2 separate regions of the Homo sapiens genome follow, and region 1 is linked to region 2. The links come from fine-mapping of genetic effects on gene expression. A gene starts in region 2. The other region holds a variant in brackets. All regions are shown on one strand. Distances are between the middles of the regions. Region 1 holds the start of TAAR5 (trace amine associated receptor 5). Region 2 holds the start of SLC18B1 (solute carrier family 18 member B1).

Region 1 (10,317 bases), 210 kb before region 2:
GTTATTATCACCACAGACATTCTACTAAGATCTCAAGAGAATGTCATTGAGTATATGCTTTCATTTGTCCAAGGGCCTAACCCAATTTTCTGGGGGCAACAGATTTGCTTCTTACATTCTGTTCTCCTAACGAAGAGGATGAAAGAGCTGGGCTTCAAATCCTGGGGTCGGGTGCCTCCCCTCTCCAACCATCAGCTCATGCTTCCGTTTGTGGTGTCCACTGAAGGTGCGATTCTTTTTCTCATTCTCCCCTGGTTCTTTGGTGATGCAAACATTGTATCATGACACACATGTCCTTGTGTTTCTGTGATTCACTGGAAACTGGAGTCTCCTATCTGGTTTTCAGTGTTAGTCCTATTCACAGATTTATTAGCTGTCCAGATTTCCCTAATATTTCAGAGAAATAGTAGATAGGTTAACAGCTTTCAAGTAAGAAGATAGATTAAGAATTTTCAAGTAAGGATGCCAAGGTAAATTACCAGATCTTTGCGTGCCTCATCTGTGTGCCCTGTAAGGGTAATAATATCCACCTCACAGGTTTATAGGCATTAAGTGAGATGCAGAACATCATAGGTTCTCAGTAACTGTTAGCTCCTTCCCTTCTCTTCATTGAGGGCCTATCTGGCTAAGGCAGCCTTCTCCACCTAACAGGAAACAATAATATGTGCAAGAAGCAGAATCATTTCTTGCTTCTGTTGAAGTGACTAGTTCAGAGCTCCACCTTGTGAAGCAGCCGGATCTTTTACTTCCAAGATGGAGACTGCTATGCTCAGTTGATTGGGAATGGGGTGGCTTATTTCTAGAAAGGCAAGAGAAAAATATGCTTTTTAAAGTAATGACTCACTTATAGGTTGCAAATTATATTTATTGTTATACAAAAGGCATAGTATTTCTAGCTTCTTAATAACTCAAAACTATATATACTAGGATAAGTTTTAGTTTATAATTCATCTGTAATTTAATTATTTAATAATGCCTAAGAGTTAACAAAAAATAAACTATAATTAATTCCAAAGAAAAATGAAGCACTAAAGAATACGTGGAAAAATATTTTTACAACAATTATTTTTAAATAAGGAGGAAAGTTTGGGGTTAATAGCACTTCTCTCTCTCTCCATATATCTATATATAAATAAACAGAATAAACCCATTTTAGCTAACTTCATTGACAAAATAAGATATTTACTCCTTCAATTATTATTATTATTATTACCATTATTATTATTATTATCACTTTGAGACAGAGTTTCACTCTTTTTGCCCAGGCTGGAGTGCAATGGCACAATCTTGGCTCACCACAACCTCTGCCTCCCGGGTTCAAGCGGTTCTCCTGCCTCAGCCTCCCGAGTAGCTGGGATTACAAGCATGTGCCACCACGCCCAGCAAATTTTGTATTTTTAGTAGAGACAGGGTTTCTCCATGTTGATCAGGCTGGTCTTGAACTCCTGACCTCAGGTGATCCGTCCGCCTTGGCCTCCCAAAGTGCTGGGATTAAAGGCGTGAGCCACCGCGCCCGGCCACTCCTTTAGTGATTATTATTGACATGTGAATGATTGTTTTAAGTATTTGTTTAACGTCTACTTATCTGACTATTGGCATATGAATTGCTCTTGAAACACATTCCCTCCTTCATTGTCTAAGTTTACCTATTGAGATTGATACACCTGTATCTGCATCTATAGCTACAGCTATCTGTGCACCTGTAGTGGAGAGGCTTTGAGGCTTTGAACTAATTTATAAAGAAGTTTTTCAAGTAAGCAATTATTAATTTGAAAAAATCTCAGTAATAAATATAAAGGAATGGTGATTAGAGGCTTTAGGAAAATATTCAGGAGAAGACAGGCAGGCTGTACATAAAGGTGCTAGTGCCCTTACTAGTAATTGCTGCTGAGAAACATTTGGTTCAATTCCGAGCAAGCACGTGGCATGGGGACTTGTTTTTATAAAAAGCAAAAACAAAAACAAAAACATGTACTGGTGTTCCTGGAAAGATAGCCGGTCTAACTTGTGTGAGAAAAATTTAAAGAAAGAAATAATAAAACGGAAAGATGTGGATAATTATCACTTAACAAAATATTCCAACTATGTTCAGGTTTAAATTATTCAAAAAGATAAGAAAAAACATTCCTTCAAGAATATGATGCTTTTACTCAGTGATTATCACAATGGACAAACCTGGATGACAAATCTGCTTAGTGCTTGGGTTTTTAGGAGACGAGGTTTCTAAAATGAACATTTTGAGGAAGAGACATTCTAAACAATTGATTATGATTATGAAATATGAAGCGAAATTATGATTCAAACTAGGTTTCCTGAAGTTAGATTATGCCATATTTCACTTAAGAACACAGTAGAAAGGAAATATTACAAACACCTTATTTTAGATGAGGAAACTCCCATCTGTGGTGGGAGGAGGGAGGATTCAAAGATTGCTGAAATCTCTCTTGGCTGCTCTGTGTGGCAGAACCAGTGTGAGAACTCAGAAAGCCAGACCTCAGGGCTCTGTTCCTTCCGTTGTTGCATCCTAGTTGTTTCAAGGAAGCAATGAATGAGGAACCAAATATGTGCACAGTGTTCTGGCTTATCCAGTGGATATTAAGATGATTTCTTGCTCTCCTTTTCCTCCAATGTACTATAAAAAATAACACTTTTACACTGTTGGTGGGACTGTAAACTAGTTCAACCATTGTGGAAGTCAGTGTGGCGATTCCTCAGGGATCTAGAACTAGAAATACCATTTGACTCAGCCATCCCATTACTGGGTATATACCCAAAGGAATATAAATCATGCTGCTACAAAGACACATGCACACGTATGTTTATTGCAGCACTATTCACAAGAGCAAAGACTTGGAACCAACCCAAATGTCCAACAATGACAGACTGGATTAAGAAAATGTGGCACATATACACCATGGAATACTATGCAGCCATAAAAAAGGATGAGATCATGTCCTTTGTAGGGACATGGATGAAGCTGGAAACCATCATTCTCAGCAAACTATCGCAAGGACAAAAAACGAAACACCGCATGTTCTTACTCATAGGTGGGAATTGAACAATGAGAACACTTGGACACAGGAAGGGGAACATCACACACCGCGGCCTGTTGTGGGGTGGGGGGAGGGGGGAGGGATAGCATTAGGAGATATACCTAATGTAAATGACGTTAATGGGTGCAGTGCACCAACATGGCACATGCATACGTATGTAACAAACCTGCACGTTGTGCACATGTACCCTAGAACTTAAAGTATAATAAATATATATATACGTATATATATATATACGTGTATATACATACATATATATAAAACATTGAATGTGGGGAGTGCTTTATCCCTTTCCAAGTTAAGGAGCTTGTCTTTCTCTTCTACTTAACCCATGCTGTCCTGGAAGCATGCCCACAAACTCAACACCACACAGCCCACGGTCACAGTGCCACTTATCTTTCCTGTGAGGTCCTACTCCTTGCCTGCATTTAGTAGAAGGAATCATTCTTGGTACAAATCAACAGTGCGTGTCTGCGGTGAGAAGACCTTCTGGCTCAGTGTGAGTTTCAGTGCCTTCCGAAACCACTGGTAGGAAAAGACATAGATGATGGGGTTGCAGGCTGAGTTGAAGTAAGCAAACCAGATAAAGATGTCAAAGACCAGTGGGGGTGTGATAAAGTGAAGGAGGCTGTCGACCATCGTGTCTATGGTGAAGGGCAGCCAGCACAAGAGGTATATGCCCACAGCAATGCCCAGGGTCTTGGCAGCTTTTCTCTCATGCTTGGCAGCCCCAGCCAGGCTTTTGCTCAATGTGGTAATCTGCTGAGCCTGTCTGGTAGCAACCACAAAGATCTTCACATACAAGCTGATCATAATGAGGCAGGGGACAAAGAACAAAGGGAAGTTTAACCAGCCCCAAAATTTATTGAGCAGCAGCTGGCAACTGCCCACACAAGGCATCTCTTCCAGCCACTGGCTGAGCCTTGTCTCTACCACATCTGTGTAGAGGAATAACGAAGTGTATGCTGCGGGCACCCCCCATCCTGCCAGGATGTACCTGAGAGCCACCCTCACTGTGAACTTGGAGGGATAGAGCAGGGGGTCACAGATGGCACAGTGGCGGTCAATGGAAATGAAACAGAGATGGAAGATGGAGGTGAGGCAGAAGAGGGTGTCCAGGTAGGTGTGCAGGCGGCAGAGGAAGTCCCCGAAGAACCAGCAGCTCTCCACTGAGCGAATGGTGCTGAGGGGCAGCACCAGCAGACCCAGAAACATGTCAGCCAGGGCCAGGGAGAGCAGCAGGAAGTTGGTGGGCGTGTGAAGCGCTTTGAAGTAGGACACAGCAAATGCCACAAATACATTCCCTAGCACGATAATCAGCATGCCTGCTGCACAGGCCAGGTAGATGACCAACTGGATGCCCAGAGTATGTACTGTCCTGGGGCAAGACCCATTCACCTGGTAGCAGAATGCCGCAGGGTGCTCTTCAGCACCTTGGATGAAGACAGCTCTCATTTATGATTTCTACTCTTCCTCTGTCTGAGAACTGGCCACCTTCTCCACTGGAGGGCAAAAAAAAAAAAAAAAAAAAAAAAAAAAAAAAAATATGTCTGCTAAATAATCACAGAGTGAAACGAAGAGGAAGAAACTAAAGTACAGTTTGGAACATAGTACAGTGCCCCTGGGTACTGAATCAAATGTGCCCTGAAAATCAAATGCAGCATAGTATTCAAGGTTTCATGAGAGTTACTTCTGCTAGCTCTAGTTTATATGACTAGGCACTTTAAAACTAGTGTAGGTAGTATTCTTAAAGAAAGAAAAGAAGGATGTAAGCTGAATGTTTCCTCAAAGAAAGCTTGATTATATCCATAGGTAGTATTAAATAATAGAGAATGTCTCTTACGTTTTGATAAGGTATTTTTTG[T/C]CAAATGTAAAGTGAAATTTAAAGCAAAGATCTGAACCAAGTGACCAATTAATTCTTGTTAATAAATTATTCCTTGGAAAAAGTGTAACTTCTAGCTTCTCTCTTTAAGAATTACATACATTGACAATAAAGTTAGCAGATTAAGATTTTTAGCTACATGCCAACTCTTCCCAAGAGAAGAATTCAGCATGCAAATATTAATAATTAAAAGAGTAGAAAATTGCTCTATTTTAGCTTTAAATGCTGCACATTTTATGATGATAACACAAAGTGTTTACACATCTTGGTATAACTATTTGATAGGCAAAATGATTTTATCTATTTAACATCTTAATGTAAGTCTGTGAATTATTAACCAAGTCCTAATATATTGAATTCAGAGTTTCTAAGTTACTTACACAGGTAGGAATCAGAATCCCTTCCTGGGAAAAAATGTTTCTTGGAGCAGGTGGACACAGGGAATGTCAGAGTACTCTTCTGTTGGCCACAATGACAGGTGTGCAATTAGTTAACGATTTTATACTCTCAATAGAAACTACTCCTCCATGTGCTATGATACAAATAAGCTGTGAAGAGGCACCATGGGACCTAGTTTGCACTATTTGCAAGTCTCAGTTGTTTAAGGTTCCTCCTCAATACAGAATCACTTACCCTGACAATTAATTAGAGATAAAATTTAAAGACGGTGGATGTATATATTCTTTTTTAATTTTTCAGTTCTGGGATGTTTTGAAGGTATTCTTGCCTGCTAATGGCTGCTATATATTTTCTAATTTCATTTTTAGTGAGTTTCTTATTTTTCTTCTGCTTTAGTATTATTTGTGTATATTTCTCTCAACATGAGAAATAGTTGAGAATAATTGATCATGGGTTTTTTGGTTCATGAAGGGGTGGTTTGTGACTTCCACACAGGATTCATCATTATGTGTTTTTTGAGCACTATATTTTGTGATGGTGAAAGAAAGCATGGTAGATGAAGCAGTTCACCTGGAGGAAGAATAGTTAAATTCCTGTTTCATCCTTTCTTATGCCATACCTAACCTCTCTCTCTGCTTCCCCATTGGTAAGAGTAGGTACAATTATACCTGTGTAACTTGATTTCACAGGGATATTATCAAGGTAAATAACATGTTGAATCGTATTCTGCTCTCTGCCTCTTGATATCTTAGAAGCTGGTATGCCTCTTTATGGTTACAGAGAAACCATTTCACAGTATCAGTCAAACTAAAGTTGTAAAAATGACAGAATTCTAGAGGTGACACCAAATTACATCTGCCAGAGGGGCCTGGAAGAGGAGGTGGGGCAGGTCAAAAAGAAGGAAGGAGGTTGGTATGCACCTCTCCTTTCTCTACAAATCCATGGCTAAACCCAGTGTTTCCCAAGGCAAAGCTCCCTATAGCCTGGCTACCGCTGGAATCTTGCCTTATGCCAGCTTCATATGTGTGGAAATACATATCTGGCTCCAGAACTTAATCAGACACAAGGAAGGATATTGCATTACTAGGTACCTTGAAACCCCTTTAGCTTAAAAGTCATAATCCACATATAATTGGCCAAGGAGTCCTATGGCTTTATATTTAATTTGACCAAGAACTTGTGAAAAATACAAACAAATGTCCTGTAGCTGGAATAAGGCTGAAGAAGAAACAGGGAAAGGTTTTCTGTTCTGGGATAGATTACATCAGACCTACTAAAATGTAATATGTAACACAATTGTATGATCTCTATGTCTCAGATTACTTAACACCACTGTGTCCAGTTTTCTCATCTATTAATTGAATATAATACATGATCTGTGTCACAATCTTGTGAATATTAATGAGTTAAAATTCATAAAGTGCAGTCTCTGGCATGTAGAAAGTTGAGTTGGGCAGACAAGAGTTCGAGTGGATATCTAGTGCAGATAACTGTTAACCTTCCCAAGTTAGGGCTCTTATCCCTTCTTCCACTGACTTTTAGAAATACATTCCATTACATAACAATCACAGGCAAAAGTAATTGGATTCTGGATCTACTAAGGTTTCCTGCTTACCTTAGGGATTCATTAATGTTGCAGCAAGCTGCTAAAGGTCTTGAATAAAAGAACATTTTTATTTCTTTTAAATCTCCCCGCTGCATCATGTGTAGCCTCCTCTGCACTTTACTTACTAGAAACCAAATTTGTTTTCAAATTACCGCCAACTTTAACAAAATCGATTATAATGAGGCTGTGCTAATTATGATAACCTGAAATTATGAAGCCAGATGGAAGTGTTCTTAGTACAAGCTCAAACTGGCAGACTTCACTCAGGTTCAGAGATTCTCTTTCTATAGCCTGTTGTCTATGGACGGTCTTTGCCTGCCTTTGAGAGCACATAGGACAGAATAATTCTTGATTCCTCAAAATCTGTCTGATATGATTTGGGTCTGTGTCCCCGTGTAAATCTCATGTCAAATTGTAATCCTCAGTGTTGGAGGTGGGGCCTGGTGGGAGGTGCTTGGATCATGGGGGTAGATTTCCCCTTTGGTGCTGTTCTTTTGATAGTGAATGAGTTATCATGAGATCTAGTTGTTTACAAGTGTGTAGCACCTCCCTTCTGCCTCTTCCTCCTGCTTCAGCCATGTAAGATGTGCCTGCTTTCCCTTTGCCTTCTGCCATAATTGTAAATTCCCTGAGGCCTCCCCAGCCATTCTTCCTGTACAGCCTGCAGAACCATAAGCCAGTTAACTTCTTATTTATAAGTTCTTATTTATAAGTTACACTTGGCCTAGCTCTACTCTGCACCCGGCTCTTCTTCCTCTCTGCTGACATTGCTAAGCAACAGTGGTCCCAGATCTACCACTGAATTCCTGGGTAAGGACCACAGAACAGTAGCTACCCAGGGGCAACAGCTTACCACAGACTTTGCCATATGCCCTGTCTTTGCAATTTCACTTCAGTGGGTGAAAGTACTTGCTCAAACTTGCTTCCTCATGCCGATCTTCAGGAAGTTGGCTTAGTGACCCCTTCTCTGATGCTCTAACTCCACTTCCCCAGCTTTCCCTTGACTCTAATAGAGGCTCTGGTTCCCTTACAAAACCTGATGCTACAGTCTTTGGTCAAAAATGCAGGCAGTCTCTCCACAACCCCATGTCAGGCTAAATTTTCCTCTGCCATGCTCTCATGGCCTCTTGTGCCTGGCTCTGTCACAACACATATTACCCTGTAGTGTAACTGAGTGGCTATGGTCCCTCCTATGAAGTCAAAATTCCCTTGAGGCCAGGGTTTGAGTTTTATTTATCTCTGAACCACAATCAGAGCAACACTTGGCACATAGTAGGTGCTCAATAAATGTTCGTTGAACCGAGTGACTTTTAATACAGACAGCAAGTATCATGGAAATTACCATTCCCCCTGAGATAATGGTTACTCTGCTCAGCTTAGATGAGTCCTGGGAAGAGGAGATTTGGTTTAGGAATGAAAATGGCTGCTTCACTCTCCTTGGCCTAGCCTAGGAAGAGCATTTGGAGCTGTTTTGAAAAACTATTGAGCTAATGTTTGTGGACACCCTTGTAAAGTTCAGTCTGGGAGGATAATGAATATATGTACACACATGAAAGACATGGACGCATCCCCACTATGTGTACACACAGGCTGCATACATACATGGATCTAAAGTGTATATTGGGAGAAAGAAAGCATATTTTCCCAAACTCTTTATTCATTTTTCTCATTTAGTAAGACAGTCCAATTTTATCAAATATTGCAAATCTCACATCAGTTCTTTCTGAAAAGGGGTTTCAGCCAAAATCATTACAATTGGAAGTAACTACAACTGTCTGTGTCTTTCTCCCTTTCCGCATCACTAGCATGCTCCATAACTCAGACTTCCTGTATGCCCAGGCTCTCTCCCACTTCCCTAACAAGCAACAACAATCTCAAGAAAGATTTAGATAAACTCAGATATACATGGCTGTCAATGATTGTGGAAACCAACTTTGCTTTTGCATCTGATGTTTTCAAGTTAAAGTAAGAAAATCTCTATATGATTTAAGCCAAAAGACTAAAATTCTAGATCCCTAATTTGGAATCTCAGGAGTCAGTAAGACTTGGGAGAGATTCTTTTTATTGGAGTTGTCTTTCCCCAAAGCCCAGAAATGGACCGCTTTGGTAGCTTTAGTATACCTGGAAGGCTCATCTATAACTCCTACCTAGATGTTCACTACGCCAACTGGAAGGATCTCCTTATCTGGTCAATTCATGCCCCTACTTGTGTGGAGAAAGGGCATCCAAGATTCCCCACCAGAAAAGAGTCCTATTGAATGATGAACACAGCCTAAGCATGGGCAGAAAACAGGCTTAGGGTGGAAGAGTCAGGGTGGAAGATCATGCCTGTGACAATCATCCTCAATGCCTTGCGAAACCAAGGATAAAGCATGCCATATAAAATGGGATTGAAAGCAGAGTTGAAATAGCCTAGCCAGAGGAAGACATTGTACAGATCTTCAAGGGTTGTAAAATTAATGAAAGGATCTGTGATCGTCAAGACAAAGAAGGGCAGCCAGCACAACACAAACACTCCCATGACTATGCCTAAGGTCCTGGTGGCCTTGCTTTCTGTTTTAGAGGATGCCTTTTTTTTTGCTTTCTGACCCAGCCTGTTTAGTCCTAGAACCTGTGCCAATTTGCATGGCATGCTTCCTGGCTACTGTAAAAATATGTATGTAAATTCCCACCGTGGTTGTCCCTGGGAGAAAGAAAGCTATAAAGGAGGCCAGTACCCCCCCAGAGCTTATTAAATATTAACACACACAAACCTGTGCAATCAATGGCTGCAACAAACTCTTCTGCACCAATTATGTTTAGTTTTGAGAATACCAGGCCAAAGGCAAAAAGGATGGGAATGGACCAACTGATGAGTAGAAAGAGTTCTATGACAGGGATGGTAATTCTGGTGACATATTGCAATGGGTCTCAAACAGCATCGTAACGGTCAACTGAGATGAAGCAGAGGTGAAAAATGGAGGTGGTGCAGAGTATGATGTCACAGCAGCTGTGGACTTTGCAAAAGAGGTCTCCAAAATACCAGCAGGACTCGATGGATGTGATCACACTGAAGGGCATGACCACACAGCTCAGCAAAAAGTCAGTGATGGCCATGGAGAGGATCAAGAAGTTGGTCGGGGAGTGGAGCTGCTTGAAGTGAGCGATGGAAATCATTACGATCATGTTGCCCAGCATTGTCATCACTATAGACCCGATCATGACCAGGTACATGGCCCAGACACTCAGCACCGGCCTCACATTTCTAGGGCATGAATTGTTAACTGAACTAAAGCAAAATTGTACTGTTGGGGGGTTCTGAGGGTCAGGCAAATTCATCATCTTTGTCTCATGGGTACTATGAATCTTGTTCAAAAGTGCTGTGTTCCTCTCAGTTC
Region 2 (10,317 bases):
CTGTAATCCCAGCTACTTGGGAGACTGAGGCGGGAGAATTGTTTGAACTCAGGAGGCGGAGGTTGCAGTAAGCTGAGACGATGCCGCAGCACTCCAGCCTGGGCATGATGGAACGAGGCTCTGTCTCAATAAATAAATAAATAAATAAGCAATTTCTGGTCCTCTGACAAAAGATGAGTGTGGCAAGAAAAATGATGAATAGAAGTAGGAATCCCACACCATAATTTAAGAAAGGCACTGTTTTTCCTTTGCCCAGTTAGCTTAGCTAATAAGAAAAATGACAGAACATGCAGGAGGAAGGGTGAGGCTTCACCAATGCATTTGTTGACCACAAGATTTTAATCAGAAATGAAAAATCAAAGCCTTCTCTTCATATTTACAGCTTTTAAAGTTAGAATGTTCTCTCTCCTGCCTCTATCTCCTTTCTTTCAGCCTTCCCTCTGCGAGGCGAGACAAAAGTAGCAAATGTAAGAAGTCACATTTTGCTCACTTCTGCTTGCCAGCATAATGTCATAAAACCCCTGACTCTGTGACAACATGCAACTCTTGGGAGGGATGAGTTGAAGACAGAGCAGGATAGAGCACATGGTCCCCCACATCTCTTGCCTGAGCTATTACATTCCTTAAATGATAAATGCCCCAGCTTTGCCTTTTCCTACACATAAGATAACATCTAACAGGGTTGTGATTATGCGTTTATAAACTATTACCAAAGGTACATTCATAATCTATAACCAGATGTACTCTTACACCCAAACTTTGATGTGACCGTGCATGTACTGAGTCTCTACTACCTGTACATGAACTGTGAACTGAAATACTCAGCCTATAGTCCTCGGTAAGACTTCTGAATAAAATGAACTTTAATTCTTTAAAAGCTTGACTTTTTTCTTTGGTCATCATTTCCTATAAGCACAAAACTCAATCAAAAACTTAAAAAGCACACACCCACAGCATGGTTTTCCTTTGTCCCTATTCACTTAGAGGAAACTAACATTAGTTGCACTCACTGAGTTCCAGCTGAGCTAGGAAATGCCCTTCTCACTGGTTGATTCACTCACTCCAATTCTTCTCCATCTCAATTCCACAGGCTCTTATTATTTTTTTTTTAATTTTTTTTTTTTTTGAGATGGAGTCTCACTCTGTTGCCCAGGCTAGAGTGCAGTGGGGCGATCTCGGCTCACTGCAACCTCCACCTCCTGGGTTCAAGCAATTCTCCTGTCTCAGCCTCCTGAGTAGCTGGGACTACAGTCACGTGCCACCATGCCTGGCTAATTTTTGTATTTTTAGTACAGACAGGGTTTCACCATGTTGGCCAGGCTGGTCTCAAACTCCTGACCTCAGGTGATCCTCCCACCTCAGCCTCCCAAAGTGCTGGGATTACAGGCGTGAGCCACCATGCCTGGCATTATTATTGTTATTATTATTATTTAAAAATCCCAAGTCTGGCCAGACTGCTCTTTCTTGCTCAAACACCTCTGATGACTGCCCACTGACTAAGTCCTTGACAAGTGCCCTTCCTTTCTATCTTAGGCCTGCCTCCTCAGATCCACTGTCTCCTATTAGACCTCACTTCACCCCAGGCTCAAGCCACATCAAGAAGCTGTCTGTTGTTCCCCAGGAACATGCCATTCACTCTGCTCTTCCTGTGACTATACCTAGAACACCTCCATCTCTGTTGTTCACCATAAGAATTAACACTTCTTAGGGCCCACCTTAGGCCAGGTGCGGTGGCTCACACCTGTAATCCCAGCATTTGAGAGGCCTGGCCAACATGGTGGACGGATTGCTTGAGCTCAGGAGCTCAACATCAGCCTGGGCAACATGGTGAAACCCCATCTCTACTAAAAATAGAAAAAAATAGCTAGGCGTGGTGGCACATGCCTGTGCCCCAGCTCCTCAGGGGGCTGAGGCGAAAGGATCTCTTGAGCCTGGGAAGTTGAGGCAGCAGTGAACTCTGATCATGCCACTGTACTTTCAGCCTCGATGACAGAGTGAAACCCTGTCTCAAAAAAAAAGCCCCAACTTAGATTTAGCCTGAAAGTTCCTTTCAGTAACGCCCTTTCTTCTGCTATCCACACTCCATGTATGGCAGAATTAACCATTCTTCTTTCTAGGCTCTCATAACATTAGTATGGATAGAGGGAAGCCAGAAGAAAATGATTTAAAAAAAGAAAAAAAAAAACAGTCTTATAACATTCTGGACATCCTTTTCTTAAGGGATATCCAAATTATTGGAACCTTTTTTTTCCCATATTTTTTCACTCCCAAAGGGCAGACAAGAGAAAGCCATTTCCCTGATTTTTTTATACTACCCTAACACATCCCATGCTTAGCCTGCTCTAGAGAAGGGACTCATTAAACCTCTAGTTAATAGAACTGAATTGGGCAAGTCACAACTTCTGAGACCGTTTCTTCATTTGCAACATGCTGAGATTCTCAAGATTCTGTATGAGGTTGTTGCGGGGATTAAATGGATAAATAAGGGGTAATGTGTACTAGAAGCCAGAGAGCACTGTATGGGTACATGGCAATATTGTTCCTTTAGCAGAGAAGCCACTTTATCTTCTTTTGTAACACACAGAACGAAGGACTACATGTTTAAAAGGCAGTTGGAGGACTAACAAGCTTCCACTGCACTGTGAGCCAAGGATTTGGCAAAAAGCACAAAATAAAACACATGGATATGTTGTCTACACTCCAAGCCAGTCATATTCATTTCATACTATATCCTATTGACGTCTAGAATCCAGTTGGACTTTCTAGGGATTATTATCTTTGAATCTGTGTCATTAGCTATAAATCTTAACACCATATAAAAGGCTATGCCTAGAAGGAATAGGCCCTATTAATCAGAATTCCTCCCTTGCATAAACATTGGCGCTAGAGTCCATAAGAAATTAAAGTCAAAAGAGGGAATATGGAGCGGGGCCGGGGCTGGGCGTGGTGGCTCACGCCTGTTATCCCAGCACTTTGGGAGGCCAAGGTAAGCAGATCACCTGAGGTCAGGAGATCGAAGCCAGACTGCCCAACATGGCAAAAACCTGTCTCTACTAAAAATACAAAAATTCGGCCGGGCACGGTGACTCACGCCTGTAATCCCAGCACTTCGGGAGGCGGAGGCGGGCAGATCATGAGGTCAGGAGATGGAGACCATCCTGGCTAACACGGTGAAACCCCGTCTCTACTAAAACAATACAAAAAAAAAAATTAGCTGGGCGTAGTGGCGGGTACCTGTAGTCCCAGCTACTTGGGAGGCTGAGGCAGGAGAATGGCGTGAACTCAGGAGGCGGAGCTTGCAGTGAGCCGAGATCGCGCCACTGCACTCCAGCCTGGGCGAGAGTGCGAGACTCCATCTCAAAAAAAAAAAAAAAAAAAAAATTACCCGGACGTGGTGGTAGGCGCCTGTAATCCCAGCTACTCGGGAGGCTGAGGCAGGAGAATCAATTGAACCCGGGAGGCAGAGGTTGCAGTGAGCCAAGATCACAACATTGCACTCCAGCCTGGGCAACAAGAGCGAAACCCTGTCTCGAAAGGAAAAAAAAAAAAAAAAAAAAAAGGAAGGGGGGTCGGGAATCAAAACGTCCTAATTCTAAAATGTGAATAAAACCTCGAGAAAATAGTTACTGTCTTAACACAGACCTATTGCAGTAACATTTGAATCTCAGTTATTCAGTGCACTCCTTTGTTTCAGTTGCAGAAACCAAATAAAGATTAATCAGACTACATGGTAAGAAAAGTAATTCTCAGAAGATCAACTACTTTTAGGTGAATTACCTCCCAAGAAGATGTTCTTTTTGACTGGATTTTTTTTCCTGGTATCAGGCATTCTATAAGAAGTATTCTATTGGCTGGAGTTCTATACACCATCTGTCCTATATGCAGATTTTTACATTTTATATACTATAAAATAAAATAATTCAAAAGGCTTTTAAAAAACAAACAAACAAAAAAACAGAGGTCCTAAGGATTTAAAAATGTCTTACCTCTTTGGGGAAAAACGGTCCAAGTATAGAATAGCACATCATGGAACCTAAGTTCACCGAAGCTGCCGATATCAGTACAAAAACCTGTTCTCTCGAAAGCCACCCGGGGGTCTCTCCTGCACTTCCTGCAGGATCATCACCTTGAATGCAAACATGCAGCAATTAGGCATATAATTGAGACTACTGATTAAAGTACACAAATGTGATTTCTGTGCACATATGTTGCACTCTGAAGATATCATTTGCTAAGCTTAGGGCTATTTTGAATATAGCACATTTGATCAAATGGAACACAATCCTTGTACATTACTGCCGTTTTGAAAACGTACTGCTTTCGGCTGGGCACGGTGGCTCACGCCTGTAATCCCAGAACTTTGGGAGGCCGAGGCAGGCGGATCACGAGGTCAGGAGATCGAGACCATCCTGGCTAACACGGTGAAACCCCGTCTCTACTAAAAATACAAAAAATTAGCCGGGCGTGGTGGCGGGCCCCTGTATCCCAGCTACTCGGGAGGCTGAGGCAGGAGAATGGCGTGAACCCGGGAGGCGGAGCTTGCAGTGAGCCAAGATCGCACCACTGCACTCCAGCCTGGGCTACAGAGAGAGACTCCGTCTCAAAAAAGCAAAACAAAACAAACAAACAAAAACAAAAACAAAAACAAAAAACAAAGATTTCTAAGGCAGTATTGAAGTCAAATGAAGTGTAAGTAGGAGAAAACAAGCTAAATCATTCAGCTGGTGAATTAATATTTACAGCGGTATGCTTCTGGATAGACAAGTCCCACAAATTCATAAATAAATACTTTTTTTTTACCCTAATTACTGGTCTTTTACATCAGTTAATTTAACACTTATTTCCAGGGCTAAATTGTCATTTAAAAACACGAAATCAATTACTGAGTTCCAAATATCCAAGCAAATCCATCAGCCATTTATAAATTAAATTGTTTTTAGGAAAAACTTAAGAGAAATACATTTGCTTTGCTCTATTTGTCAGAGGTTGCCATTGCAGTCCAGAAGGAAAAAAAAAATCAGTGCAACATGAGGAAGTCTTACGAATCTTTGTAAAATGTTTGTAGTAGATGAGAAAGGGAAATGAAAGTTAAAAAGAAAGGCAACAACAATGGGTACTTGAAAGGTAACGTTTTACATTTGCCTAATGGCATACTTATTTGAATGCATTAAACACACAGTACTTAAAAAGCAGAGGTATAGGTTAGAAAGTCATTAGAAACCGTGACACATATCCAATCCTGGAACTTTACCCCGTCCAGAGAGAAAAGAAACGCTGGCCCGAACCCCACGATCAGGCCCCAGCCTTTTCCAATCTCTCGGAAACAGATCAAGCTATAAGCAATTCAATCGTTGCTAAAGAGACACGCCGGAAGCCGCCGCTGGTCTCCGGGCTCCCGGCCACGCAATTCATGGTCACCTCCTGGTGCGCGTGGTCCCTCCAGGTCACCCAGCGCCTCCATCCCCGGTGCGTGGACTCCGGCGCCCCAGCTCCCGGCTTCAAGCCACGTCCTTGGACTCGACCTCCAAGGAGCCACTGGCACTCTGGCGGGCGGCCGCTGCTCAGCTGGAACCTGGCATCCCCGACTCCCTGCAGGCAGCGATCCGCCCGGCCCGGAGCTCCCCAAAGCCTTCCAGGACTCTGGGTCCCCGGGAGGAGGCCGGGGGCGGGGCAGGGGTGGAGCAAGGCTCCTTTTTTTTTTGTTTTGCGCCCCCCCCCCGCCTCATTATCTTAATCCACCACCTCAGCTGCTATATCATGGTGTCCTTTTTCATTCTGTGACAGAGAGTGAAAAAAGATGAGTCTATATTCCATACAGCTGTACCCCCCTCAATCTTAAAATAAGTTCAATTTATTCCTACGAAACGAAAGAAAGGAAGCTTATGTAGACACAGAAAAGGCAGGGAGTACCTCAACTGAAAGACACAAAAGTGAATTAGAAAATTAGGTTATACAGGAACTTTGAAAGAGTGAATTATTTTTCACAGTGGGTAAATGCGGTAGTGTTCGTAATTACTGAAGCCAGACACTATTGAACCGGAAATGAATTAACCTATGTGAAGCACCTGGAGTCGAAAAATATTTGCAAGAATACTAATGAATATCGAGGAAGCATGGCGAAGTGGCTAGGAGTGCGACCTCTGGAGGCAGGTGCCAGGGATTCAAGCCAGGGCACTTGCTGGCAGTGTGTAACTTTGGATGACAAGGTCAGTTTCTCTACCTGTACAACTGAGATTATAATGTTTATCTCGTAGGGCGGCTGTGAGCATTGGCGATAAAGTGTGTTAGTAGTTAGCACATGAACATGATGGCTGCTACCTTACTCTCACACTCACAGTTTTCTTGCATAAAAAATAGGTTTCACTTATTTTCACCGTATTTACTATTTGGGAAGTGTTAAAGCTCGAGGACTGGCTGGACACGGTGGCTCATGCCTGTAATCCCAGCAGTTTGGGAGGCCGAGGTGGGCAGCTCACCTGAGGTCAGGAGTTCTAGACCAGCCCGGCCAACATGGTGAAACCCTGTCTCTACTATAAAAATACAAAAAAATCAGCCAGGCGTGGTGGCAGGCACCTGTAATCCCAGCTACTAGGGAGGCTGAGGCAGGAGAATCGTTTGAACCTGGGAGGCGGAGGTTACAGTGAGCCAAGATCCAAAAGAATTGTGTGAGGGTAGCTTTATCGACTGAGAATCTGCCTCAGATCCACTGTACAAGGTCAGTTCCAGTACACAGTATGGCTGATAGTAAGTTTGTAATTACTGTGCCACCTCATTCCAGCCTGGGTGAAAAAGCGAAACTCTGTCTCAAATAAATAAATAAAGTTTAAGGACTGGGAAATTCTTGTTTTGAAGCCAAAGCAAAACAAAAGACTGAGTTACCACTTTGTGCCAGGCATTATGAATTTAAAGAGGAATGAGCCCCATCCAGACTCTGCCCTCAAGTAGCACACCTTCTAGCAGATGAAATTCACACTAATTAATAATCTACTATAATGCAATCGGTTGTATACAAACATATTGGAAGAACCATTTACTTTGGCAAATGGGTCCTGGATGACTTCCTGAGGAAGTGATGTTACCTTGGTTCTTGAAGGTTATGTAAAAACTCCCCAGTGAGGGCCGGGCGCGGTGGCTCACGCCTGTAATCCCAGCACTTTGGGAGGCCGAGGTGGGCGGGTCACGAGGTCAGAAGTTCGAGACCTGCCTGACCAACACGGTGAAACCCCGTCTCTACAAAAATACAAAAATTAGCTGGGCATGATGGCACCCAGCTACTCAGGAGACTGAGGCAGGAGAATCGCTTGAACCTGGGACTCGGAGGTTGCAGTGAGCAGAGATCATGCCATTGCACTCCAGCCTGGGCAACCGAGCGAGACTCCATCTCAAAAAAAAAAAAAAAAAAATTCCCCAGTGGGCAAGTTGTAAAGGAGAACCTAGAGAACCACTCTGAACAGAAAGTTCCACTCTAAGCCAGGTGCTGTGGCTCACGCCTGTAATCCTAGCACTTTGGGAGGCCGAGGCAGGCAAATCACCTGAGGTCGAGAGTTTGAGACCAGGCTGACCAACATGGAGAAACCCTGTCTCTACTAAAAATACAAAATTAGCTGGGCATGGTGGCGCATGCCTGTAGTCCCAGCTACTCGGGAAGCTGAGGCAGGAGAATCGCTTGAACCTAGGAGGCAGAGGTTGTGGTGAGCCAAGACAGCACCATTGTGCTCCAGCCTGGGCAACAAGAGTGAAACTCCATCTCAAAAAAAAAAAAAAAAAAAAAAAAAGAAAAGAAAAGAAAGTTCCAATCTAGCAAAGTTTCCCTAAAGTAGCCTTATGAAATCTTTATGATCTAACCCCTGACAGCTTCTCCAATCTCATTTAACTCTATGCTTTCTCTTCAATCTAACATCAATCTGTAGAGGGAAATTTTCTTGAATGATTTCTTTGATGATTACATTTCCTCTTTTATTTTCTTTCTGGACTGCACTTTATGTGAATGTTGGGTCACCCAAACTGGTCCTTTTACTTATTTCTCTTTTTCTTCTCTCTTTTATTTTATTTTATTTTTTTTAGACAGGGTCTCACTCTGTTTCCCAAGCTACCATGACATATAATGGCTCACTGCAACCTCAAATTCCTGAGCTCAACTGATCCTCCCACCTCAGCCTCCCGAGTAGGTGGGACTATAGGCCTGTGCCACCACACCTGGCTAGTTATTATTTTTTCTTTTTTTTTCCTCCATGTTATAGGAAGTATCCCTAACTGTATCTTGCCATCTGAATTTTTGCCAACTGAATCTTGCCAACTGTATCTTGCCAATTGAATGTTTCATTTCTGTTGCCATCTATTTCCTTGTATCTCCATTCTCATTCCTCTCCCCATTTGCAATAATTCTTGCATGTTTAATGCAAATCTTGTTCTTTATGTTCTCAAAAAAATCTATGTTCTTATGTGTCCATCTACTTTTAATTTACATAAAGTCTATTCATATCCCTATCCTCCGCTCCTCTTGTAATCTCTACCTCTCATTCTCCCTTCAGATAATCAGTTTTATAATCAAATATATTATTGTGTTAGTTTTCTGGGGCTGCTGTACAAATCAACACAAATTTGATAGCTTAAAACAAGGTCCTCAAAGCCAGAAGTTCAACATCAGTTTCACTGAGCCAAAATCAAGGTGTCAGCAGGATCATGTTCCCTCTAGAAGCTCTAGGGAAGAGTCTGTTTCTTGCCCCTTGAAGCTTCTAGTGACTATTGGCATTTTGTGCCACATCACTGTAGTCTCTGTTTCTGTGATCACTGTGCCTCTTCTTTTCTGTGTGTAATCTTCGTTTGCCAGTCTCTTGTAAGGATATTTTGAATGAATTTAGGGCCCACCTGGATAATCCAGGATGACCTCTTCATCTCAAGTTCTCCAATTTAGTCACATCTGCACAGACCCTTTTTTTCATATAAGGTAACATTTACAGGTTCCAGGGATTAGGATGTGGACGTATCTTTGGAATCCATTATCAGCCTACCACAATTATCTATTCATAGTTTGATATGCTCATTTAGACATTCATACACATATGGAATATTTGTTTCTTTACAAACTAAAATGGAGTAATATGGTCTTTGTTTAAATGCCACCTCCTCAGAGAAATTCATTCTTTTTTATTATTTATTTATTTAATAATAGAGATGAGGTTTCACCATGTTGCCCAGGCTGGTGTCAATCTCCTGGACTCAAGCAATCCATCTGCCCTGGTTCCCCAAAGTGCTGGGATTACTGCCGTAAGCCACCATACCTGGCCAAGAAATTCATTCATTTTTTTTTTTTTTTTTTTTTTTGAGATGGAGTTTCACTCTTGTTGCCCAGGCTGGAGCACAATAGTGCTATCTTGGCTCACCACAACCTCCACCTCCTAGGTTCAAGCGATTCTCTTGCCTCAGCTTCCTGAGTAGCTGGGACTACAGGCATGCGCCACCATGCCCAGTTAATTTTGTATTTTTAGTAGAGACAGGGTTTCTCCATGTTGGTCAGCCTGGTCTCAAACTCTCAACCTCAGGTGATCCTCCCGCCTCGGCCTCCCAAAGTGCTGGGATTACAGGCGTGATCCACCGCGCCCGGCTAAGAAGTTCATTCTTATGCCCTTATCCAAATACAGCCCTAGTCCTCCTTTGTCCTTTCACCTTTCTATTTTTCTTCCTGGCATTTCTATCAGTCAGAGTTCCCTGTTGCTAATAAAAAACAAAGCAACGTTGGCTAATTTAAGCAGAAAATGAATTCATCATTGATTATTAGGTAACACATAGTATCATCAGGAGGATCATGCATACCACTTAGAGGCTAAGTGCCTAAAGTCACACCACCTAAGCGGTCCAGTATGCATGGCACTGCAACCCTGCTGGACGTACATCTCCAGCACATGCTGCCAATACCACTGGAGCCAGGTATGAGACACTGTAATTAGAACATCATCCCCACTCCTCAAGAATGCTGCCACTCTCACCAGAAGAGATTTTAGGTGGTGCTAGCTTCTTCCACTCACTTGCTTCCATTGCATATCAAGACCCAATGTGTTTGAAGTCAGGCAGTAAAAAGTGTCCAAGTACGTTCTTCTTTTTCAAGAGTGGTTTGAATATTTTAGTTACTTTGACTTTCTAGAGAAATATCACAATTAGCTCTCATATTCTCCAAACAACCTGGTGGAATTCTTACTGGTATTTTTTTTACTCCATATATCAATTTGGAGAGAACTGATATTGAATCACTATTAAGCTTTTAATCCATGAACATAGTATATCTCTCCAATTATATAGATATTTCTTTCATAACATTTT

Evidence for each region. PIP is the estimated chance that this variant, and not a neighbour inherited with it, causes the effect.
Region 1: its variant is the best candidate, but not a certain one, in a credible set for the expression of SLC18B1 in esophagus muscle (GTEx, PIP 0.52).

What each region holds. Positions count from the first base shown.
Region 1 is chr6:132,585,179-132,595,495 of GRCh38, forward strand. It overlaps TAAR5 (trace amine associated receptor 5), which reads right to left and starts at 4,563. Exons shown (of 1, transcript NM_003967.3): 1 at 3,414-4,563. The coding sequence starts at 4,508. The coding sequence ends at 3,495. It also overlaps the pseudogene TAAR4P. The variant T/C (reference allele first, on the strand shown) is at 4,918.
Region 2 is chr6:132,792,996-132,803,312 of GRCh38, forward strand. It overlaps SLC18B1 (solute carrier family 18 member B1), which reads right to left and starts at 5,642. Exons shown (of 14, transcript NM_052831.3): 1 at 5,419-5,642; 2 at 3,987-4,126. The coding sequence starts at 5,461. RefSeq lists an enhancer at 3,928-4,428 and a silencer at 5,660-5,709.